4 separate regions of the Homo sapiens genome follow, and all the other regions are linked to region 1. The links come from fine-mapping of genetic effects on gene expression. A gene starts in region 1. Each other region holds a variant in brackets. All regions are shown on one strand. Distances are between the middles of the regions. Region 1 holds the start of HSDL1 (hydroxysteroid dehydrogenase like 1). Region 2 overlaps HSDL1 (hydroxysteroid dehydrogenase like 1). Region 3 overlaps MBTPS1 (membrane bound transcription factor peptidase, site 1). Region 4 has its middle 14 kb from the start of MLYCD.

Region 1 (6,437 bases):
CTATATGCTGGGACATTTAATTATAATTCTCTCCTTATACTCCTGTATAATTATTCCAGCTTACAGATGAGGAGACTAAGGCTCCGAGAGGTTAAGCTCTGGGCCAACAGCCATAAAGCTGGCCAGCTGCTGAGCCTCAACTTGAACCCAGTGTCAATGGCTCCAAGACCAGTGTCTTTCCACTGAGTAATGCCAGTTCCCTATGGCTCCTCATACAAGGTTCATCTGGACAGTTGATGCTTAAGATATATTTGTTGCCTGGAACACAAATCAGCTGGTTTATTTGTTGCCTGCGTTCAGAAACTGGAACACAAATCAAGTGGTTTTTTAATGTAATCACTAAAAGGTTTCCTTTAGGGCACCAAGTCTAGTGGGAGCAGAAGCTGAAGCCAGGCTTCCTTCTTTCCTTTTTTTTTTTTGAGACGGAGTCTTGCTCCATTGCCCAGGCTGGGGTGCAGTGGTGTGATCTTGGCTCACTGCAGCCTCAGCCTCCCCCTTGGCTCACTGCAACCTCTGCCTCCGGGGTTCAGGGAATTCTCCTGCCTTAGCCTCCCAAGTAAGTGGAATTACAGGAGCACGTCACCACGCCCTGCTAATTTTTGTGTTTTTAGCAAAGACAGGGTTTCAATATGTTGGCCAGACTGGTCTCGAACTCCTGACTTCAGGTGACCCACCTGCCTCTGCCTCCCAAATTGCTGGGATTACAGGCGTGAGCCACCGTGCCTGGCCATGAAGGTTATCTTTCAAGTCCATTCTGGCAAACTTTGGTGAGGGGATCACACACTGACCCCAGAACCAAGTCTTCATTCGGACTCTCTACCCTAGGTCAGGCACTGGACTAGACTCCAAATTCAATCAAGATGTCTTGCCCTGACACAACATGCAGTCTGGAGGGAGAGAAAGCCTTTGATCTTACATAGTGATAGCAATAAAGGGACACATTTAAAGCATCAAAGTTGGGACCAGGGAGAATAGCGTGGTGGGTTAGGGCTGGGGCTCTGGAGACCCAGACTGTCTGGGCCTGAGTCTGGTGGGTTTTGTTTGCTTGTTTGTTTGTTTGTTTGTTTGAGACGGAGTCTCCCACTGTCGTCCGGGCTGGAATGCAATGGCGAGATCTTGGCTCACTGCAACCTCCGCCTCCCGGGTTCAAGCGATTCTCCTGCCTCAGCCTCCCAAGTAGCTGAGACTACAGGCGCCCGCCACCACGCCCAGCTCATTTTTTGTATTTTTAGTAGAGACAGGGTTTCACTATGTTGGCCAGGCTGGTCTCGAACTCCTGACTGACCTGATGATCCGCCCGCCTCGGCCTCCCAAAGTGCTGGAATTACAGGCGTTGAGCCACCGCACCCGGCCAAGTCTCTTCTGTCACTGACTAGCCGAGGGTTATCTGTTTGGTGCAAGTTTTGTAACCTCTTAAGTATGTTTCCTCCTCAGTACGAAATGGCGAGAGAAGCCCCTACTGCAGAGCGTTGCTTGCTACCATTATTATTATTGTTATTATTTGGCTGTGAAGATCGGGTATGTGGTGTGGGAAGGGGGCTGGAGCGCCTAGCCGTGTCTGCCCCTCGCCCACCGCCCTCCCTGGGGGGCAGTCGGCACCTTCCTTGCAGCCCCCTCGGCCTGCGCTCCCGTGGTCACCCGCAGACTCCTCCACGCCGGGCTCCTGCGCGCAATCCAGCTCTGCTGCACCACCTGTCGCAGGCTCCGAGGGCTCAGGGTGCATGTTTACTTCGGCGACACCGAACGCCCCGCAGCTTTGGGGGGCCCAGGTTCGCGGCGGACGTCGCTACGGCCCCAGCCCAGCCAGAGAGTACCCTCTTTCCTTCTTCGCCAGCCGCTGGCGCCCTAGTCTTTACAGCCCAACGCTTCCCCGGTCGCCCAGGCAACCGCTGCGCACGCGCACTCGGGACGGACCGGCGCGCTGGGGACGCCGGGGGGTGGGGGCGGGTCTGAGACGGCTCCGCCCCCGGCGCGTACGCGGGTCACGTGAGGGCGCGGCGCGGCAGCAGCTCCGGCGGCCGAGACGGGGGCGGCGGCCGCGCGGGTCTGGCGGGACCGGTTTGGAAGACTTTGCCGGCCTGCAGGTACCGCGCCCCCCGCGCCCTGGGCGCCCTCTCGCGGTCCTTTCGCCCCAGACCCCTCCTCGGTCCCCTCAGCGCCAGCCGGCTGCTTGGCGAGACCCCTCTGAGCTCTCACCACGCCCCCCAGGCCCCGGGCCCCCTCCGCTGCATCCGGCCCCGAAGCCCCTTGGCGCCCCTGACCCCAGGAAATCTTCGTCCCTCCGTCCCGTGAGACTCCTTCCTTCAGACCAAAAAGCCCCAGCCCCGCCCCTTCACATCTCAGAGCCCCCCTTCCCCCGGCTCCATCCTCACGCCCCCCGCCGCGGCGCTGCACCCCTGTTCTCTCTCTTCCCCCGGGCCTTGCCCCCCAAACCGCGAACCCCGTTGTCGCCGGCGCATGCCCTGCCCTCCCTGCAGCCTCTCACCCGGCTCCTCCCCCGAGCGGCCCCAGCAATCGCCTCCTTTGTCGGTGCTTCTTTATTCTCATTTCTGAACGATTTGGTTTGAGTTGTTGTTGCCGTGTTTTTCTAAAATGGAAATATGCAGCGGTCGTGGGTTCAGCCAGGATTTCCGAGTTTGCTCGTGTTGACTGGGCCTTGCCGGGTGCTGGAGGGGAAGGGCTGGGAAGAAGAACCAGGCAGGTCCCCGTTCTGAACGTGCCACCCAGACGCAGCCCCAGAAACCGGATCGCTGCAGCGCCCCTCGGCGATCCCAACATGATGTGTACAGGTGACTGCGAGGCAGTCGGGGGGTCTCACAGTGGGCTCCCTGGACAGGACTCTGCGCCTTGCTATACCTCCATCTGAATTGCAGGTAGCCCCTTTCTGAGTTGTGGGGTCTTGGGTGTGCGACTTTACATCTATAAGACTCAATTTCCCCATCTATAAACGGGAGAGTCTGACTGCGCTTTATAAGATTAATGAGAGAATAAAGTGAGACAATAGGAATAAAGCACTTAGCAGAGTCTTTTGCATAAAGTGAGCTCTCAATTTTACTCTGACCGCCACAGGAGAGAGAGAGAGAGAGAGAGGGAGGGAGGGAGAGGGAGAGGGAGGGGGAGGGGGAGGGTGTTGATTGATTGATTGATTCAGACAATCTCGCTCTGTCGCCCGGGCTGTAGTGCAATGGTGCCTGCGATCTCAGCTCCTGCTACCTCTGCCCGCCATCCCGCACCCCGGGCCCAAGTGATTCTCCTGCCTCAGCCTTCCGAGTAGCTGGGATTACAGGCACGTTCTACCACACCCAGCTAATTTTTTTTTTTTTTTTTTTAGTAGAGACGGGGTTTCGCTGTGTTGGTCAGGGTAGCCTTGAACTCCTGGCCTCAAGTGATCTGCCCGCCTTGGCCTCCCAAAGTTCTGGGGTTACAGACATGAGCCACTGTACCCGGCCAAGTTTGTGGTTTTAATCACTGCTGGAATATTCTAGGGCAACAGAGTTGAACATATTGGTGCTACTTTTTTTTAAAGTAGGTTTTCAAAAATCGAAATGACTTACGCATGACATAAAATTTATCATTTTAGCCATTTTACAGTGTATAACTCAGTAGTTCTTGCTATAGTCACAATGCTATGCAACCATCACCAGTAACTAATTCCAGAACATTTAATCACCTACAAAAGAAACCCCAACCCCATTAACAGTCATACCTCTTTTCTCCCCCTGTCCCTCAGCAGCCCTAAGTTATCTTCTGTCTCTATGGATTTGCTTATGCTGGACATTTCATACAAGTGGAAACATACAACATACGGCCTTTTGTATTTGGTTTCTGTCCTTTAGCATAATGTTTTCAAAGTTTATCCATGTTGTAGTATGTATCAGTACTTCATGCTTTTTTATGGCTGAATAATACTCCTTTGTGTGGATAACACCACATTTTGCTTATTCATTCATTTGTTGATGGACATTTTGTTTGTTTCTGCCTTCTGGCAGTTGTGAGTAGGCCACTGTGAACATGCAAGCAGGAGTTTTTATGTGAGCAAAAGTTTCTAATTATCTTGGGTATCTGCCTAGGAGTGGGGTACTCTGAATATTTTAATTCTTACTGCATAAATACAGACATGATGGTGAAGAGTGTTGGATCTTGGATGAGAATCCAGGTTTCTAATTCCATGTTGCTGCTCTTTAGGCTCAGCTTCATTGTGCGTTTAGTCCTATACCAAAAATTGGCAGTGAAGGTAAAGACATCCCAAAAAGTCTTGATACACCAATGCTAACTTTGTCATAGTGCTGACGCAGAGTATGAAAAGCTTAAGTTTTTTTCTCAAGAGTGAAATTTGAGCTTTGAACACAAAGCAGTATTTGATTCTGTTTATTAAATAAAGTTGTCTACAGCAGCATGTCAGGTGCTGAGGAGGAATATTAAAGATGTGTGAGATCCGGCCGGTCACATCCCAGTGCTTTGGGAGGCCAAAGTGGGCGGATCACAAGGTCAGGAGTTCAAGACCAGCCTGGCCAATATGGTGAAACCCCCGTCTCTACTAAAAAAGAAAAAAATACAAAAATTAGCCAGGCATGGTGGCACACGCCTGTAGTCCCAGTTACTTGGGAGGCTGAGGCAGAAGAATTGCTTGAACTTGGAAGGAGGAGGTTGCAGTGAGCTAAGATCGCGCCATTGCACTCCAGCCTGGGTGACAGAGTGAGACTCTGTCTCAAAAAAAAAAAAAAAAAAAAAAAGATGTGTGAGATCCCAGCCTCACACCATCACAAAACGCCAGGAGGATTAAAGACTTAAACTGAAAAAGCAAAAATGTAAAATTTCTAGAAAATAATTCGAAAAAATTTCTTCATGACCTGAGGCTAAGGAGGGATTTCTGAAATAAAACAAACCCTAAAGCAGAAAGATTGATATATTTGTCTCTTTCAAAATTAAGACATTCAGCCAGGTGCAGTGGCTCCCACCTGTAATCCCAGCACTTTGGGAGGCCAAGGCAGGTGAATGGTTTGAGCTTACGAGTTTGAGACCAGCCTGGGCAACATGGTGAAACCTCATCTCTACACACACAAAAAAAATTTAACTGGGCTTGGTGGTACATGCCTGTGTCCCAGCTACTTGAGATGCTGAGGTGGGAGGATGGCTTGAGCCCGGAAGGCGGAGGTTGCAGTGAGCTGTGATCATGCCACTGCACATCAGGCTGGGCAATAGAGCCAGACCTTGTCTCAATAATAATAACAACACATTTAGTTCATGAAAGACACTATAATGAGACACAAAACATACAGAGAGCTAGTATCTAGAATATTTAAAGAATTCTTACAATTCTGAGAGAAAAAAAAGGAAAGGACAAAAGATAGGAACGGGCATTTCATAGATTACAAAACACAGAAAGCACATACATATAAAAAGGACTGCAGCCTTACTAGTAACCAGGGAAATGTAAATTAAAACCATAATGAGATACCATTTCACAGCCACCCTGTTGGCAGAAGGTGAAGCTTTGGACGCTACCAGCCAGTGACATTGAGGAGTGGCACGAACCTGCTGCTGGCGGGAGTGTGAATGGGTTCTGCCGCTTTGCAAAAGCATTTGGCAGTGGAATGCATGTGGACCAGCAGTTAAACCATGGGCAAATCCCTTTGCGAACTCTTGCACAGGTGTGCAGGAGATGGGGACAAGCGCTCCCTGCAGCACTGTTCCTAACTGTAAATCAAAACCAGCAGAAACAGTGCACGTGCCTAGCACCAGCAGCAGGGGGACCTGTGAATCGTGGTGTATCTGAACCAGCAGCAGGGGGACCTGTGAATCGTGGTGTATCTGAACCAGCAGCAGGGGGACCTGTGAATCGTGGTGTATCTGAACCAGCAGCAGGGGGACCTGTGAACTGCAGTGCATCTGAACCGTGAGATACTGTGCAGCTGCCGAGGAGGATGGACTATATAGCTGCAGGGGCATGGATGAGTCTCGGGAATGATGTTGAGTGAAAGAAACAAGTCACCAAAGGGTCCATGTGGTGTGGTTCCTTTATGTGAGGTTCAAAACCAGGCGAAACTTAGCAATACTGTTTTTTTTTTTGTTTGAGACGGAGTCTCGTTCTGTCGCCCAGGCGGGAGTGCTGTGGCGCGATCTCCGCTCACTGCAAGCTCCGCCTTCCGGGTTCACGCCATTCTCCTGCCTCAGCCTCCCGAGTAGCTGGGACTACAGGCGCCCACCACTGCGCCCGGCTAATTTTTTGTATTTTTAGTAGAGACGGGGTTTCACCGTGGTCTCGATCTCCTGACCTCGTGATCCGCCCGCCTCGGCCTCCCAAAGTGCTGGGATTACAGGCGTGAGCCACCGCGCCCGGCCAGCAATACTGTTACTGTTTCAGAATACATGCTTGGGGTATACAGCTGTTTTGTTAAAAGAGTCAGGGAGTGACTACCCCAGAATTTAGGAGAGAG
Region 2 (6,512 bases), 20 kb after region 1:
AGCTGATTTAATTCCTGGAGTAGTTTTCTGTATAAAGTTGTTAAAACTTTCTGTTTTCATTTTATGTTACTCAAATTATTTTCAACACTATCATTTTTTATTTCCAATTTTACATCAAAGATTTGATTCATCCTTTGCTGTTTTGTCCATGGCATATTTCTCTGATAGCTTTTGCTGCTGTGATTTTGTTCACAAAGTGCGTGAGTGTGTGTGTGTGTGGGTGTGGGTGTGTCCTCCCTGGAGAGTAACCTGTGTCCATTTATTGACAAGAGGATTGAATGACCTCTATTATCATTCATCAGTTCAGTTCAAGACTAGAATGTCAGTACTTGCCAAGGGCCTGTCTCTCTTCTCTTTCGTATACACGGTGTTAGAACTTTCATTCGGTTCTGAACAAATCTGTTAGAGGAGTGTAGGCTTTCTCCACCTCAGCACTGTTGGCATTGAGAGCAGGTAATTCCTTGACATGGGGAGCGTCCTGTGTATTGTAGGATGTTGAACACCATCCTGGGCCTCCACCCACTAGATACCAGTAGCATCCACTCCCAGTGTGACGACCAAATTTGTTTTCAGACATTGCCCTATGTCTGCTGCTAGCACAAAGGCCCTGAGTGAGACCCTGAAGCAGAGCAGCATCAGCAGGACTCCCTTCCCTGGTCCCCTGAGCACCCCCATCATAGGTCAAGATACCATCCCAAGGTACTGGTGTTTCTGACCTGTTTTCTTGTTGAACTTTGTTCCATACTACCCCTCAAGCCCCAGTTTTCTCATAGAGTACTAACCACGTATGCGTCTGTCTGTTCCAACTGATTTATTCCTATAATGATTTTGTGGTGTTTTTTTTTTTTTTTTTGAGACAGAGTTTTGCTCTGTTGCCCAGGCTGGAGTGCAGTGCCGCGATCTCGGCTCACTGCAAGCTCCGCCTCCCCGGTTCACACCATTTTCCTGCCTCTGCCTCCTGAGTAGCTGGGACTACAGGCTCCCGCCACCACGCCTGGCTAATTTTTTGTATTTTTAGTAGAGATGGGGTTTCACCCTGTTAGCCAGGATGGTCTCGATCTCCTGACCTCATGATCCACCCGCCTCGGCCTCCCAAAGTGTTGGGATTACAGGCATGAGCCAGCGTGCCCAGCCGATTTTGTGGTTCTTAACCAGTGAACATTTTGTTCATATCACGTTAAGTAAAGACAGAATTGTATTTACATGCAGGACAGTCCAGCCTCATTACAGAAAGTCGGGTAGGTGGGTGGTGGTCATGTTTCTGTTCCATGTAGAATCTAGGGTAAGATCTTAGGCAAAAGTAGGTATTCAGTACAGTAGTACCTGGAGGCTTTTTCCTTTGTTGTATTTAATGTGATTGGTGGGTATTTGTTGTGACTGGTGGGTATTTGTTGTGATTGATTGGTGGGTATTTGTTGTGATTGATCGGTGGGTATTTATTGTGATTGGTGGGTATTTGTTGGGATCGATTGGTGGGTATTTATTGTGATTGATTGGTGGGTATTGTGATTGGTGGGTATTTATTGTGATTGATTGGTGGGTAATGTGATTGGTGGGTATTTGTTGTGATTGATTGGTGGGTATTGTGATTGATTGGTGGGTGTTTGTGATTGGTAGGTATTTGTTGTGATTGATTGGTGGGTATTTGTTGTGATTGGTGGGTATTTGTTGTGACTGGTGGGTATTTGTTGTGATTGATTGGTGGGTATTTGTTGTGATTGGTGGGTATTTGTTGTGATTGGTGGGTATTTGTTGTGATTGGTGGGTATTTGTTGTGATTGATTGGTGGGTATTTGTTGTGATTGCTTGGTGGGTATTTGTTGTGATTGGTGGGTATTTGTTGTGATTGGTGGGTATTTGTTGTGATTGATTGGTGGGTATTTGTTGTGATTGCTTGGTGGGTATTTGTTGTGATTGGTGGGTATTTGTTTGATTGGTGGGTATTGTGATTGGTGGGTATTTGTTTGATTGGTGTGTATTGTGATTGGTGGGTATTTGTTATGATTGATTGGTGGGTATTTGTTGTGATTGGTGGGTATTTGTTGTGATTGGTGGGTATTTGTTGTGATTGATTGGTGGGTATTTGTTGTGATTGGTGGGTATTTGTTGTGATTGATTGGTGGGTATTTGTTGTGATTGGTGGGTTTCATGTGCTGGTCTGTGTACTTGTTCCTTCAGTGTTGATTTTGGGTTCTAACCTTACAACCTTTTTCTCTTTCATTTTTAGTTTCTTTTTGCACAGTATATGCCTGAATGGCTCTGGGTGTGGGGAGCAAATATTCTCAACCGTTCACTACGTAAGGAAGCCTTATCCTGCACAGCCTGAGTCTGGATGGCCACTTGAGAAGTTTTGCCAACTCCTGGGAACCTCGATATTCTGACATTTGGAAAAACACATTTAATTTATCTCCTGTGTTTCATTGCTGATTATTCAGCATACTGTTGATTCGTCATTTGCAAAACACACATAATACCGTCAGAGTGCTGTGAAAAACCTTAAGGGTGTGTGGATGGCACAGGATCAATAATGCCTGAGGCTGATTGACGACATCTACATTTCAGTGCTTTTTCCCTAAGCTGTTTGAAAGTTACGCTTTTCTGTTGTTCTAGAGCCACAGCAGTCTAATATTGAAATATAATATGATTTGTCAGGTCTTATAATTTCAGATGTTGTTTTTTAAGGGAAATTGACCATTTCACTAGAGGAGTTGTGCTGGTTTTTAAATGTGCATCAAGAAAGACTACTGAAAAGTATTATTTTGTAACTAAGATTGCTGGTACTATTAGGAAAAATCTGTGTGTATTGTATAGCTCTAGCTGTTTGACTATCTGTAATGAAAATGCTGCACTTCAACTGGTATTTCATTAGAGAACCGTGTGTGTGCGTGTGTGTGGTGCCTTTGAGCAACTTTATTTATGGTTACCATATTTTTAAAAAGATTTTTTGTCAGG[G/A]TGACTTAACATGGACTCTTATAGGGTATTAAAACAATCTAGATTATTCCTTTTCATCCTAAATAAGCCTACCAAATTTCATGCTGTTGGTTTGCCATGAATGATATTACTTCCTACATTATATTTGTGTTTTTTCAAATCTGCTATGGAATGAACTTATTCCTAGATTTGGATATGTAAGAGAAACCTGCAGTCATCTTTTGATTTATAAGGCAATTCTTGTGGATAAATAGTGATTTCTCAGCCTCTGACCCATTTTATAACTGAAATTTAGCCCTTTAGAGCTTGTTATATCTGGTTTTCCTACGTTTTTCTATGTAATATTATTCCATTCCAGTAGCATTATTGATAGAAATAGTAAGTATTTATGGAATAGTAAAATATGGACAAATTACGTGTGTGACATATCTGTCAATATAAGTTAGAAGCTTATTCTTGGTTTGTGTAATGAATTTATGTATTGTAGTGAATACCTTTACTGGTGTGAAGATAATTATGCACAAACCCTCACAATACGCGTTAACATTGAAACCTGTGAAATGTCCTTAGTTTGGGTCATATAAAGCCAACCATTTTTGAGGACCATGTACCTAGTGCTTTGAAAACTCTAAGTCACTATATGAATATGACAATATGTGCACATTTAAAATTCAGAGCTCGGCATTGTGATACTGATGCAGAAGCTAGTAGATTGGTTAAAAGTCTGGACTTCTGTGGCATTTTTTTCGTGACGTGATAATCTATCATAAGCAGACCTAAGCACAGTTTTATGAACACAATTTTGCCCATGACATTGCCTACAGGATTTCCAGATGTGACTTGCACTCAGAAGATCAGTGGTCAACTTCAGAAGCTCTTCCACGCTTAGATCATGTCTTCAGAACTTAGATGTGAAAATCTACACACTGGGAGATGCTGTGAGCCCCAAGGTTTTGATGGAGTTTGCTTGGAATCCTCTTGACTTCATGCCACATTGACGTGAACTTTGATGTATAATAAGCAGCAGCAACTTCATGTGAAAATATGGTCAGGTAGTTATATGTAAGGTTACGTGGTCCAGTAATGTCTTAGATTGATAAATTAGGTATGGAATCCATCAGTGTTACGTGATGAGAATAGGTGAACACACCTTGTCAGTGATGATGTAAACTTCTCTCCTTGGCAGGACATGGGCAAACATGCTGATTGGTGCAAATGTGGTGCCGAGCTGTCCATAGCTGCAGTGAAAGATGAAGAGCAAGACCTTCTCTAGGTTTTCTAGCTTTCATTAAATGTATTTTTTTCCCCAGAGCTAATTTGAAAGTTGATTGGACCACTGTGGATGGGGTGTCATTAAGAATGTGGGAAATAGGGGCCGAGTGCGGTGGCTCACACCTGTAATCCCAGCAGTTTGGAAGGCCAGGGCAGGTGGATCGCTTGATCCCAGGAGGTCGAGACCAGCCTGGGGAACACATCCTGTCTCTACAAAAAATACAAAAATTAGCCAGGCAGGGTGGTGCATGCCTGTAGTCCCAGCTACTTGGGAGGCTGAGGCAGGAGAATTTTTTGAGCCCAGGATGCAGAGGTTGAAGTGAGCCAAGATCGTGCCACTGCACTCCAGCCTTGAGACAGAGCGAGACCCTGTCTCAAAAAAAAAAAAAGAACGTGGGAAATATGAACCTTTGAAAGTTAATCTGTGAATTGAAAGTTTAACAATAAAAGTAGTTGTTTGTTTCCTTTGGAAGAGTTTTGTTCCAGATGTTTGTAATTTGGTTGTTTGTAATTTGGAATGAGAGAATTTTTTTTTCTTAGGAGTGATTGCAAGAAATTAACATGAACAACAGTGGTCATAACTGATTAAAAGCTGACACGTCAGTAACAAAATTGTTTATAACTATGTGCCTAGTCTTTGGAAGCTACTGGGTTGACTTCTGGATCTCTTTCTCTTGGTAGGTTGAGTAAGGTGAGGATTGATTTGAGCATGGAATTTGGCTGTGTGGATGGAGATCATTGGTGATTTTTTTCCATGAGCCATTTCAGTCTTCAGGCTAGAATTGTAATGGATTCAAGAAAGAGTGGGAAGAAGAAAAAAAGGGAAGAGAGCAGATAGAGACAGCTCCTAGGAGACTTTCCTGTGTTTTCCTATCCTCAATTACTTAAAATCTAATCACATTTGGGAACCAGAGGGTTAGATGGTTATGTCCTCAAAACCTATTCCAGTCAATTTATGTCTCAGTCTCAGTATTGGCTTATGTGTTATTTATCTTTTTAAAAATTCATATATGTTTAATGAGTATAAAGCCAAGCACAGGACAGTCGTGAATTCAGTAGAAATATTCTCTGTTATTCCTGGCCGCGTGCAGTGGCTCACGCCTGTAATACCAGCACTTTGTGAAGCCGAGGCGGGCGGATCATGAGGTCAGGAGTTTGAGACCAGCCTGACCAACGTAGTGAAACCCCGTCTCTACTAAAAATACTAAAATTAGCCGGGCGTGGTGGCGCGCCCCTGTAATGCCCGTTGCTCAGGAGGCTGAGGCAGGAAAATCACTTGAACCCGGGAGGCGGAAGTTGCAGTGAGCTGAGATCGCACCACGACACTCCAGCCTGGGAGACAGAGCAAAACTTTGTCACAAAAGAAAAAAAAAAAAATATTCTGTGTAATTCCTATGGTGAGACTGAAAGGGAAGGGAGGCAGCTCTAGAACCCACTCTGGAACGTGCACAAATAGAACTTCCACTTCCACAGCAAGCCCCCCTGCGAGGGCGATGTGCTCTGGCCAGCCCCGCACAGCGCCACTGTTGAGGGCGGGATGATGGTGCTGCAGGCATGGAGACAGGTGCTCCCGGGGGAGGGGGTGGGCAGGCTCATGGCCTTCCCGTGGCGTGACGTTGACACCCTTCTTCAGTAAGTGTTTGCTCAGGTGGTTGTGGAAATACTTAGGGGGGTGACCTCCATCAGTGAGTTGGATGGGAACACACAGTGGGGCAGGACTTGTGTCATCATGCTTTGTGGACAGTAGTTTCCGCTTATCCACAGTTTTGTTTTCTGAGGTTTCAGTTACCTATGATCAATCGAGGTCCGAAAATATTCAATGGAAAATTCCATAAATAAACAGTTAATAAGTTTTAAATTGCACACAGTTCTGAGGAGTGTGATGACATCTCGCACCATCCCACTCCCTCCTGCCTGGGATTGGAATTCTCCCCATGTCCACAGCTTCTGTTCAGGTAACCCTTATTTTACTTCGTAATGTCCCCAAAGCCCAAGAGTAGTGATGCTGGCACTATGGATATACCAAGAAGCTGTAAAGTGCTCTTTTAAGTGAAAAGGTAAAACTTCTCCACTTAATAAGGAAAGAAAAACATTGTATGCTGAAGTTGCTGAGATCTGCAGTAAAACAAATCTCTCCATGACATTGGAAAGAAGGAAAAAGAAATTCATGCTAGTTTTGCTGTCACACCTCAAACTGCCAAAGTTCCAGCCACGGTGAGTCCCAAGACCATCCACCGGAGGTCTTGGAACATGTCCCCTCGGATAAGGGAGCACTACCGTAGGCACTGCAGGCTGTCACGGTGTTGTCG
Region 3 (5,000 bases), 33 kb after region 1:
TTTGTGCCACTCTCTTACCAGAAAGTATGATTTATTCTTTTTTTTTTTTTTTTTTTTGAGATGGCATCTCGCTCTGTCTCCCAGGCTGGAGTGCAGTGGCTTGATCTCAGCTCACTGCAACCTCTGTCTCCCAGGTTCAAGCGATTCTCCCACCTCAACCTCCTGAGTAGCTGGGATTACAGGTGTGTGCCACCACACCCAGCTAATTTTTGTATTTTTAGTAGAGATGGGGTTTCACCATGTTGGCCAGGCTGGTCTTGAACTCCTGACCTCGGGTGATCTGCCCGTCTCGGCCTCCCACAGTGCTGGGGTTATAGCTGTGAGCCACCGAGCCCGGCGTATTCTTTTTTTGTTTTTTTTTGTTTTTTTTGAGACCGAGTCTCGCTCTGTTGCCCGGGCTGGAGTGCAGTGGCGTGATCTCAGCTCCCTGGAAGCTCCGCCTCCCAGATTCACGCCATTCTCATGTCTCAGCCTCCTGAGTATCTGGGACTACAGGAGCCCACCACCACGCCCAGCTAATTTTTTTTGTATTTTTTAGTGGAAACGGGGTTTCAGTGTGTTAGCCAGGATGGTCTCGATCTCCTGACCTCATGATCCGCCTGCCTCGGCCTCCCAAAGTGCCGGGATTACAGGAGTGAACCAATTTATTTGAAAAGTTTTTAAAAATACTAAAATATGTTTTATCTAAGTATAAAAGTAACATATGCTCCCTATAAACAAATAAATTAAAGCAGAAATTAACTATCTGTAATCATACAATTGAAAGGTAGAACCACTGTAACCATTTTGGTATGTGTCTTTCAGTGGTTTTTTTTGTTGTCATTGTTTCCATTTGAGACAGTCTCTCCATTGCCCAGGCTGGAATGCAGTGGCTTTATCTCCGCCCACTGCAACCTCCACCTCCTTGGTTCAAGCGATTCTCCTGCCTCAGCCTCCTGAGTAGCTGGGATTACAGGCATGTGTCACCATGCACAGCTAATTTTTTGTATTTTTAGTAGAGACAGGGTTTTGCTATGTTGGCCAGGCTGGTCTTGAACTCCTGGCCTCAAGTGATCCGCCTGCCTTGGCTTCCCAAAGTGCTGGGATTACAGGAATGAGCCACCGCACCCAGCTGCATTTTTTTTTTTTTTTGCTCATAGACACATTTTAAAATTGAAATGTAAAAATTTGGATTATGTGGTGCATGAACTGTTTTACTTAACATTTCATTAGCATTTCCCCATATTTCTATTGTAACAAATGACCACAAACAGTGGCCTAGAACAACATGAATTTACTGTCTCACAGTTCTGGATATCAGAAGTCCAGAATCCGCCTCACTGAGCTCAAGTCAAAGTTTCAGCAGGGTTGTCTCCGTCTGGAGGCTCTGTGGAGAGAATCAGTTTCCTTTTGTTTTTCAGTTTCTACAGGCCACCTGCGTTCCTTGGCTCCTGACTTCTTCCTCAAATTATCTCAACCTCTTGATTGCTTTCTTTTTTCTTTTTTTTTTTTGAGATGGAGTCTCTCTCTGTTGCCCAGGCTGGAGTGCAGTGGCACAGTCTTGGCTCACTGCAACCTCTGCCTCCCGGGTTCAAGTGATTCTCCTGCCTCAGCCTTCCGGGTAGCTAGGATTACAGGCACCCACCACCATTACCTAGCTAATTTTTGTATTTTTTGTAGAGACGGGGTTTCACCATGTTGGCCAGGCTGGTCTCGAACGCCTGACCTCAGGTGATCTGCCCGACTTGGCCTCCCACAGTGCTGGGATTACAGGCGTGAGCCACTGTGCCCAGCCAGCCTGTTGCTTTCATCATCACATCTATTACTACCTGTTGTCATCTCCTGCCTCTCTCTTATAGACACCCTTGTGATGACACCTGGCCCACCTGGATCACCGAGGATACTGTCTCAGTGCCTTCATTTAGTCACAGCTGCAAAGTCCCTTTGGCCTGTATGCTTTTGTGTGTAAAGTAACATTCCCAGGTTCTAGGAATGAGGATGTGAGCATCTTTGTGGGGACCATTTTTCAGCCTACTGCAGGAGGAGCATTTGAAATTGCTGCGTGGCGTTCTGTGGTGTGCACCGACCATAATTATTGAGCCAGTCTCCTTGTTTATGCACATTCAGATGGTCTCCAGCTTTTCCTGCTCATAATCTTGCAGTGTGTATCTTTGGACATAAAGCCTTATGTGCTTCCAGATTCATACTTCTTGGATTGAATCCCTAGGGGAGATTTTAGGAAAGCAGGCGACCTGCCTCTGAAGAGTGTGGCCTCTGGAGCCAGGCTGACCACCTGAGTTCTCAGCCCAGCTGTTCTACTTGCTGGTGTTGTGGCCCCAGGCAAGTTGCTTAGCTACTCTGGGTCTCAGTTCTCATCTGAAAGTGGGGGTAGTAACGGGTTGTTGGGAGGATTAAATTAGTTAATATTTGCAGACTACTTAGAATGGCACCTGCTACATCATAAATGCTCAGTGAGTGTTTTTCTTATTTTGGATTTGTTAGACGAAAAGTTTTTAATGTTCATTTTTAAGCGTTTTAATACATATGTGAAAATTGCCATTCTAAAAGGTTGTTTTTTTTTAATATTCACCAGCAACATATGAGAGTACTTATTTTATTGGATTTGTTAACTTAATAAACATAATTTTTATTCTAGAGGGGGTGCCTCAGGTTTTTCTGTCAAAATGTTACTTGATTTGTTTAATGTAAATCATAGAAACACAGGTTAATGTTAGCAGAAATTTACCATGAATCCTTTCAGGAATTCTGTCAATTTCCTAGAATGAGATATGCTTTTAGTTTCCCTTTAACTAGCTCAGTCCCATCTTTGGATGTCCTTCTACGTAACAATTGATGAGTGTAAATCTGTCTGACGTGTGTGGTCTGGTTATGTATGCAGTGATCAGCACTGACTGAATCTGAATAAGAGGCTTAGAATGTGCCTGTCACCACATTTAAAATAGCCCAGCCTCATGCGTCCTTGGCAGGTGAGGGTAAATAAAGAACTTATTTTTTCTGCCTGTTTTGGAAACAGGCTGAACCTAACAGGAAGGTTGCACGAACAGTATGAAACCATTTTTTCTCTAAAGCAT[T/A]TGAGAGTAAATTGCAGACCTGATACTCCATTATCCCCCGGTGTTTTAGTGGGTGTATTTTCCAAGCAAGGACCTTCTTACATAATCACAGCACAGTTGTCAAAATCAGGAAATTAGTCTTGATACATCACTACCATCTGATCCACGGGCAGGCTTACTTGGGTTTTGCCAGTTGTCCCTGAGTGCCTGTTACAGCAGATGGATCCAGTTTGGATTCATGAGTTGCACTGACTCTGGAGTCTCCTTCAATCTGGGGCAGTAGCTCAGTCATTCTTGCCTTTCATTACCTTGGTGCTTAGGAAAATTCTAGGCCAGTTGATTCTGTAGAATGTCCCTCAATTTGGGTTGGTCTGATGTTTCTCATGATTTGATTTCAGGTTGTGCATCTTTGTCAGGAACCTCCCAGAAGTGATGCCGGCTCTTCTCAGTGCATCTGCTCTCGTAGACCTGGCTCCGTGTGTCCCATTACTGCTTCCCTTGGACAACTTGGTGGAGCTTCTCCACTGTAAAATGACTTTTCCCTTTGAAAAGAGATATTTTGTTGGCAGTTGGGCATTTTGACATGATGTAAATATCTCATTCTTTTTCAAACTTCATGTCATTGTGGACTCCTGTTTTCCTGTTTTATTCCACGGGTTGGGATCTGTTATTATTTATCGTGATGCTCAGATTGTCCCGGATTTTGTTAGTGGGGGCCCCACCAAACTGGCTTCCATGTTCCTTGGACACTTCCCCATCATTCTGTGAGCCTTTCCTCATTGAGTGACACTGTTCCAAACCCATCTTGTTCTTACCGTACCCAGACTGGAACTAGTTCTTTGTCCAAAGAGCCTAGGTTCTTTTAGTGGAGAGTGATATTTAGAACCAATTGTGGGCAGTAGGTGGGCTCCTTGCTGTTGGGATTTCACTGCTGCCACACCCTTTTGGAGATAGCTAGGAAATGTGTGTAGCACGTACACGTGCACTTAGATTTCTTTCTTTCTACATCTGTTAGTCTATGTATTGAAAACCTTAAATTCAGACCAGCATTTATCATTTTGTTCTGATACTGAATGGTTCATTTATTTTTTCTCTTTCATATTTCTAACTTTCTTCTCTGACAGTAAGAAAGCCGCATCCCATTATATGTAAAATATTTATTTGATCAAACAGTTTTACCTTCACTGCTATCACCCCACTGCCTGCCTGGTGCCTTCTTCACTTGCCAGGCTCTGACCCCCTCACCTGGTGCCTCTCCCTTCACATACCTTCCTCACTCCGCTCAGACTCTTAAGACCCTGTAGTGGGCTTCTGCCATTCTCCCATGAACGCCTGCCTTCTTGTCTTCAGCAGAATTCTTCAGGAAGGGAAGAAGAAAAGGCAGAGTTAGCACTCTTTAGAAAGTGCTTTTCTTGGGCTGGGCGCAGTGGCTCACACCTGTAATCCCAGCACTTTGGGAGGCTGAGGCAGGTGCTGGATCACCTGAGGTCAGGAGTTCGAGACCAGCCTGGCCAGCATGGCAAAATCCTGTCTCTACTAAAAATACAAAAATTAGCTGGGTGTGGTGGCGTGTGCCTGTAATTCCAGCTACTCAGGAGGCTGAGGCAGGAGAATCGCTTCAGCTGGGAGTTGGAGGTTGCAGTGAGCAGAGGTCGTGCCATTGCACTCCAGCCTGGGCAGCAAAGTGAGACTCCATCTAAAAAGAAGAAAACAGTGCTTTTCCTTAGGTTTGTGTGTCTGTATCTGTGTGTGCATGCTCTGTCTGCCTGTCCTGCTGCTGCTTGTCTGCTTACCTCTCAGTGGTGAGCCCATCTTGGGAAGTGTGCCCATCGGGTTTGCATTGTATAGTGAGAACCAGGAGGGACCATTCGTCACAGCTGAATAGATGTATTAGACCCTGGAAAGTGCAGTCTGTGCTTGCAAAGCCTCACTGACTTGTCTAGTGAGTCT
Region 4 (6,512 bases), 260 kb after region 1:
TCTTGAAACAGTGCTGGGGACCCAGGGACCCAGTGGTGTTAGTCCTCCTGCTTATCAGAGATGAGAAGAAGGGAAGGGAGTCGAAGACCCTTCAGCTGAGGTGGGGAGAAGAGTATGTGATGCTGTGGTCAGGGATGACCAATAAGAGACCTTGTGGGAGACAATGGCTCATAGGACTGAGAGGGGAGAGCTGAGCTGGACAGGGACGGGCTTCCGGGTCAGAGATCCAAGCATGTCCAAGCATGGAGGGTGGGCGGCTGCAGCGTCAGCTAAGCCTGTAAGGACAGCCAGCAGCCCACACAATGGTGGTCATGCAAAGGACGAGAGAACAGCAGTGCAGTCTTTGTCTTCCTCCCTCCTTCTGAATTCCCCGCTGATGTCTGTGTCAGCTTTCACTCATCTGGTGGCCGTATGTTGCCACGTGAAAAATATTGAGTTACAAGACATTATACCATGATGCTATTTTAATTTTTTTAGAAAAGCACTCTGAAAGAAGGTTCACCAAAATGTGAACAGAAGTTATTTCTGGGCGATGGGTTTTTTAAAACTGTCTTTTAAACATATTTTTGAGTTGCCTGGGTTTTTTAAATTACAACGAGCATGCATAACTTTTAATAATAAGAACGAGTCATATTTTTTCCCATTTCCATTTTGGATAAGAAAAAGAACCTATATTTATCTAGCATCATAAGATGTTATGAATCGACGCATCTTCCAGCAAGCCAAGTTTTATCTTTATTAGATGCAATTCAATGCCATGAACATTTGGGGCGCAATGACTCCGTGCCAGCTGTTGGCCCTGGTGTTACAAGAACAAATAAAGCACAATTCCTGCTTTTAAAGAGCTCAGAGTGTCGAGCAATGACTTCTGTTCTGTGTTTATAAAAGCTCACAATTTCTGATTTAATATCTATAATAAATACAAGTCAATATCTTCTTGATAACTCAGTGTCCTCACCAAACCCGAGTTAGTGTGAAACTGTTTGTTGGGAATAAATCCGTATTGTACGGGATGCACTTCGTCATGCTCCTGGGGGCTCCTGCGTTGACACAGTGGGTCACTTATTGCTTAGACTAAGTGGTCTTGGACTGTTATGATTTTCTTGCTACTCAGTAAATAATAATGACGTACTTTCCCTCCTGAACACTGACTACATGTTAGGCACGGTGCTAAACTTTGACATGTATGATCACATTTTATTCTCAGAGTAACCCATGAAGGATGGGCTTTACTCTGTTGTCAGTCTTACAGATGAGAAAACTAAGGCTCAGATAGGTTAAGTAACTTGCCTAAGGTCACACAGCTAGTCAGTGGACATGCCAAGACTTGAACCAATTTCCGGCCGATTCCAAGGCCTAAGACGTTCATCTCCAACCTACGCACCGTTCTGTGCTCAAGCTATGTTTGCGTGTTATAGCACATTTTAGGTTCCAAAGAATTTGGAATTTTCCTAGAATCAATTCTTGTCCCACGTGTTCTTCTACAATCTCGCCAATTCCCCATCAGAGGGTGGAACCTAACTCTCTTCCCCTGAATCTGGGTGGGCTTGTTTGGTAGCTGAGGATTTCACCGCTCAGGTCTCCCTTCAAGAAAAGAGTTACTTTTCAGCTGTAAGTGTGGTCTGCACCTGTTAGCACCACCAGGGTGTGTCTTCGCCTTCAAGCCAAGGCCACTCTCTTTCTGGACAGTCTCAGCCAATGACTAAGCAGGGCAGGGGTCTAGGGCCTGGCTGTTTCTGTTCATCATGGGACTCTTTGTCCCAGAGCATGAAGTGGGTTGGCCAAGACCCTGTCTGATCTATGCTGCCACCTGAGACTCTCCTGCACCATCCCGTGTCCCCTCCTTTCCCTTTACAGCTGTTAGAGCCACACTGTGTCCTGAAGGCCTTTCCAGCCTCCTTCTGCTTCCTCCTCCCGTTCTCTGTCTCAGGTATGACTCCCAATCAACTTCTTGACTCCTAACTCCCATCTCGGTGTCTGCTTCCCAGGGGACGCATCTGACACAGCCTTTTGCTTGCTTGTGACAAACAGAACATTGCAGAAGTGATGCTGCGTGACCTCCAGGATAAAGCTATAAAAGGCAATGCAGCTTGCACATTGTTTGCTAGAACCCTCACTCTTGAAGCTTTCAGCTACCACTTAATAAGCAGTAAGCTCAGCTCCCCTGAGGATGCCACACTGTGAGGAAGCCGAAAGTAGCCCACATGAAGAGACCACGTGGAGAGGCCCTGAGAGAGAGAGAGAGAGAGAGAGACTGATCAGCCCTCATGAACTCCAATTCCTTGGGATTCTACTTCCAGCCATCATTGGACTAAGACCACACGAGAGACCCTAAGCCTAACTCATCCTGAATTCCTGATCCACTGAGACCCTGAGAGACAAAATATTGTTGTTTTAAGTCACTAAGTTTTGGGCTGATTGGTTACCGAGCAATAAATAGCTGGCACAAGTACCATGTGGGCTGTGGTATGTGAGCGTGGGGCCTGTCATTTTTCATAATCCTTCTGCAGCTTTACTATTCTGTGGGAGCTCAGCATAGTAGGTGTTCCATTCGCATTTGTTACCGTTTTGTATGCTCAGTGAGATTACAGATACGGGCCAGTTCCGAGCTGCCTGGAAATACATATGTAGCAATTTAAACATTTCCTTTCTAATTAAATTGTGATGAGAATCCATTCTAAGACGCCCTCCCAATATTTGTGGATAAGAAAAACAGAGGGTGCTTCTGAGGTTTAGGATTAATATTATGAGACTATGAAACTCAAAATTATGAGACCCCTCATGCTAAATAAGCAGAAATGACTGTGCATGAGATACTGGCTCCTGGCCAGTCTCAACATAGTTATAAAGACATATTCAATCAGTGCCAAGGAAAGAGAAGTCATCCTTGTATCTCCTTAGCCCATCCCAAATCTTTACACAGGCTATGACATTGATTCCGAGCTGGGCAGACTTGGGTTTGAATCCCATCTTTACCCATGTAAATGTAACTTGGTTTGTAAAACTGTTGGCAGAATCCACTAAAGCTGAACATATGCATTCCTATGTCCCAGCAGCTCCCTCCAAGGTATATACCAAACATGAATATATATGTATATTCACCAAAATACATGTTTTGCGGTGGGCAGGGCTGTGCAAACCTACCCCAAAGTGCAAGGAAGCCAAGAAGCCTAAGAAAAAGGCTGACAAATCCAGTGTCTTAGTAAGAAACATTTAATAGGGACTTAGGAACAGAAGACATGTCTGTGTCTTGGGTGGCAGTGGGACAAGATGGTGGATCCCTGTGCCACTGCTGCTGAGATCCAGGGCTTATACACCATAGGGGAGGGGTAGTTCTGAAGGGTTGTGTGGGACAATTGAAGTACTACAACATCAGCGTTGCCTGGCTAAGGGCAGGATTCATGGCAAGGACCTGGTCTCACACAAGGAACAATAGATACACTTGAAATCTTAAAGACCTTCCCAGAACAGGGGTTAATCACAAGCCAACGTGGTAGACTAGCATCCAAGATAGAGTCGGTTTGGCTTCCACAGACATGCACTAGAATGTTCATGGTAGCCCAGGGTTTAAAAGCCCAGATCTGGATACTATCCAAATGTCCGTTGTGTTAGTTTTATATTGCTACATAACAAATTGCCACAAAATTAACAGATTAAAACAACACATATTTTTGACCTCACGGTTTCTGTGAATCAGGAGTTAGGTCGTGGACTCTGCTTCCGAATCTCACAAAGCTGCAGTCC[A/G]TGCAGGCTGCTGTACACAATACCACAGACTGGGTGGCTTATAAACAATAGAAATTTATTGCTCACAGTTATGGAGGCTGAGGAATCCAATATCGAGGCAGCTGCAGACTCGGTGTGTAATGAGGGTCCACTTTCTGGTTCATAGATGGCAACTACTAGCTGTGTCCCTACATGGTGGAAGGGATAAGGGGTCTCTTTCGGGCCTCTTTTATAAGGACGCTGATCCCATTCATGAAGGCTCCACCCTCATGACCTCATCACCTCCCAAAGACCCCATTTCCTAATACCATCACCTTGGGGGTTAGGATTTCATATGTTGGAATCCTATTGTAAACACAATTGCAAGGTGTCTGCTAGGCAGTAGTCTCATTTCCAGGTTCAGCAGGTGTAGGGTCCACTTCCAAGTTCACATGTGCTTGGCAGAATTCAGTTCCTTGTGGCTATAAAACTGACGGCCTCAGTTTCTTTCTGGATGTGAACTGGAGGCCGCCTTCACTTCCTTGCCACAGGGGCCTCCCCAACATGCCACTTGCTCTAACAAGGCCTGCAAGGGGGAAAGTGCTCTTGAAAGGTGGAGGTCACAGTCCTGTGTAATGTAACTGTGAGTGGATTCCATCATACCCACTGTATTCTATTGGTTAGAATCACATCACACACTCCGCCTACTCTCACATCCATCAATGGCAAAATGCATAAATAAAGCATGGCACGTTCACACGGTGGAGCAGTCCAAGGCAACGAGAATGAAGTCTCAACCTACACAGCCATAGGATGCATCTCCAAACAGATGATGGTGTGAAGGTGGCCAGACACAAGAGAGCCTATTCTGTGTGATATCATGATATAAAGTTCAAAAATTGTCAAAACCTCTGCTGTCAGGGGTCAGGACAGTAGTTACTTGGGATGCAGTTAGTGACTGGGACCATGCACACCTTGCCTATTGGATGAGAGGCAGCTCAAGGCCCTCTCGCTCTCCCAGCTCATGTGTGAGAGAAGAACCAGCAGGGGCTGAGAAGCAGCTCTGAACCTTGTTTCCGGCTTCAGAACCAAGTGTCTAGCTCTGATCCAATCGGCTGTGGCCAGAGGCAGTTCCTTCCAAAGGCAGTGGGAACTGATACACCATATAAATGGCTCTAATGGGCCATGCGTGGTGACTCACACCTGTAATCCCAGCATTTTGGGAGGCCAAGGCAGGCAGATCACCTGAGGTCAGGAGTTCAAGATCAGCCTGGCCAACATGGTGAAACCCCGTCTCTACTAAAAATACAAAAATTAGCCAGGTGTAGTGGCAGGCACCTGTAATCCCAGCTACTCAGGAGGCTGAGGCAGGAGAATCACTTGAACCCAAGAGGCGGAGTTTGCAGTGAGCTGACATCGTACCACTGTATTCCGGCCTGGGCGACACAGTGAGACTCCTTCTCAGGAAAAAAAAAAAAAAAAAAAGGCTCCAATGACAGCCCCCAAAACTTCCCATTTCACATTTGTTAGCCGCCAAGCCTACGCCAGCTTTGCCCACCCTTTCAGGGGCTTTGATGAAACCATCATTGCTCTGTCTTCTCTTCTTGGGAGACAGCGGCAGGTGGCTGATCCCTGGTCATCTGCACAGGGTGTGGACAGCAAGAACTCAGTGCCCTGTGCTCTCCCTGGTGCCCGGCTTTGGAGCTGGCAGGGAAGTGCTTGCACCATGGTACAGGGACATTAGTCTGCGGAATGGATATCATTTCTGACAGACGCAGGACAAGGAGAAACAGATTTGCCCCTAGAGCTGAAAGTTTAATTTCAGCTGTAGGCTTTCTCCAAATGGAATGAGAGATGGCAGGAGTGAAAAGCAAAACTAACAACAGTGGGCATTCTCTTTTCTCCATCACACCCTCTGTGTTTTCAATGGCCAAAGCACATGGCTGCCCCCCAGAAAGGGCATCAGTTCAGTCACAGAAATGGTGGTGTTCAGCTGCTGCCTGAATGCTTTTTGTGAAATCCGACACCACTGCATCACTCTCCTGCTCAAAGCTTTTCAACACTCTCTCTCGGCTGTCAGCAGTGGCTGGTGCCTCCAGCATTTTGGGTTTCAAGCAGTTATGAGTTTTATCCCAAATAACTGGGTACTGTTAAAAGTTAACACATGGCTGTTTGTAGGGGATTTAAACTTTTTTGTAATTGGAGTGAACTTCTGAAAGGCAAACGTTAGAATGTTTCTAGGTACTAGCACAAATGGTGAACAGCCAATGTCCATCAACAGGAGAATGATAAATTGCGGTATGTTCATTGAATGGACTACTACACAGCAATAAAAAAGAACAAGTGACCAGTACACACGACATGGACGGATCTCATAAACACGATGATAAGTAAAGGAAAACAGACAGACAGACTATGCACCGTGTGTTCCACTGACATGAAAGGAAAGATGAAGGAAAACTAATCTATGATGATCAACGTCGGAACAGTGACTGCATCTGTAGGAGGTGTGTGCATTTACAGGGAAGGGAGCCTTCTGAGGTGCTGGGAAAATTCTTTATTTTTATGTGAGTGGATTACACAGATCTGTATCTATGTAAAAACCATAGAACTGTATGCTTAAGATTTGGACACTGTAGCTCCATAAAGAATAGGTTTGAAGTTATCCACGTTAATAACCACATCATTCTTGGCCAGGTGTGGTGGCTCACACCTGTAATCCCAGCATTTTGAGAGGCCAAGACAGGTGGATCACTTGATGCCAGGAGTTCGAGACCAACCTGGCCAACATGGTGAAACCCCGTCTCTAC

What was found. PIP is the estimated chance that this variant, and not a neighbour inherited with it, causes the effect. A credible set is the group of variants that fine-mapping cannot tell apart.
Region 2: its variant is the best candidate, but not a certain one, in a credible set for the expression of HSDL1 in cerebellum (GTEx, PIP 0.61).
Region 3: its variant is the best candidate, but not a certain one, in a credible set for the expression of HSDL1 in blood mononuclear cells (TOPMed, PIP 0.73).
Region 4: its variant is the best candidate, but not a certain one, in a credible set for the expression of HSDL1 in fibroblasts (GTEx, PIP 0.83).

Annotation. Positions count from the first base shown.
Region 1 is chr16:84,140,727-84,147,163 of GRCh38, reverse strand. HSDL1 (hydroxysteroid dehydrogenase like 1) reads left to right here and starts at 1,987. Exons shown (of 6, transcript NM_031463.5): 1 at 1,987-2,084. It overlaps DNAAF1 (dynein axonemal assembly factor 1), which reads right to left and starts at 1,856. Exons shown (of 12, transcript NM_178452.6): 1 at 1,600-1,856. The coding sequence starts at 1,723. RefSeq lists silencers at 1,803-2,252, 2,413-2,462, 2,513-2,562.
Region 2 is chr16:84,120,444-84,126,955 of GRCh38, reverse strand. It overlaps HSDL1 (hydroxysteroid dehydrogenase like 1), which reads left to right. Exons shown (of 6, transcript NM_031463.5): 6 at 2,228-4,815. The coding sequence ends at 2,326. Among named protein-coding and RNA genes, the nearest start is that of MBTPS1-DT, 6.7 kb to the right of the region's middle. The variant G/A (reference allele first, on the strand shown) is at 2,953.
Region 3 is chr16:84,108,032-84,113,031 of GRCh38, reverse strand. The region is part of intron 1 of MBTPS1 (membrane bound transcription factor peptidase, site 1); the gene reads left to right. Among named protein-coding and RNA genes, the nearest start is that of MBTPS1, 6.4 kb to the left of the region's middle. The variant T/A (reference allele first, on the strand shown) is at 3,072.
Region 4 is chr16:83,881,549-83,888,060 of GRCh38, reverse strand. No RefSeq gene overlaps it. Among named protein-coding and RNA genes, the nearest start is that of MLYCD, 14 kb to the left of the region's middle. The variant A/G (reference allele first, on the strand shown) is at 3,745.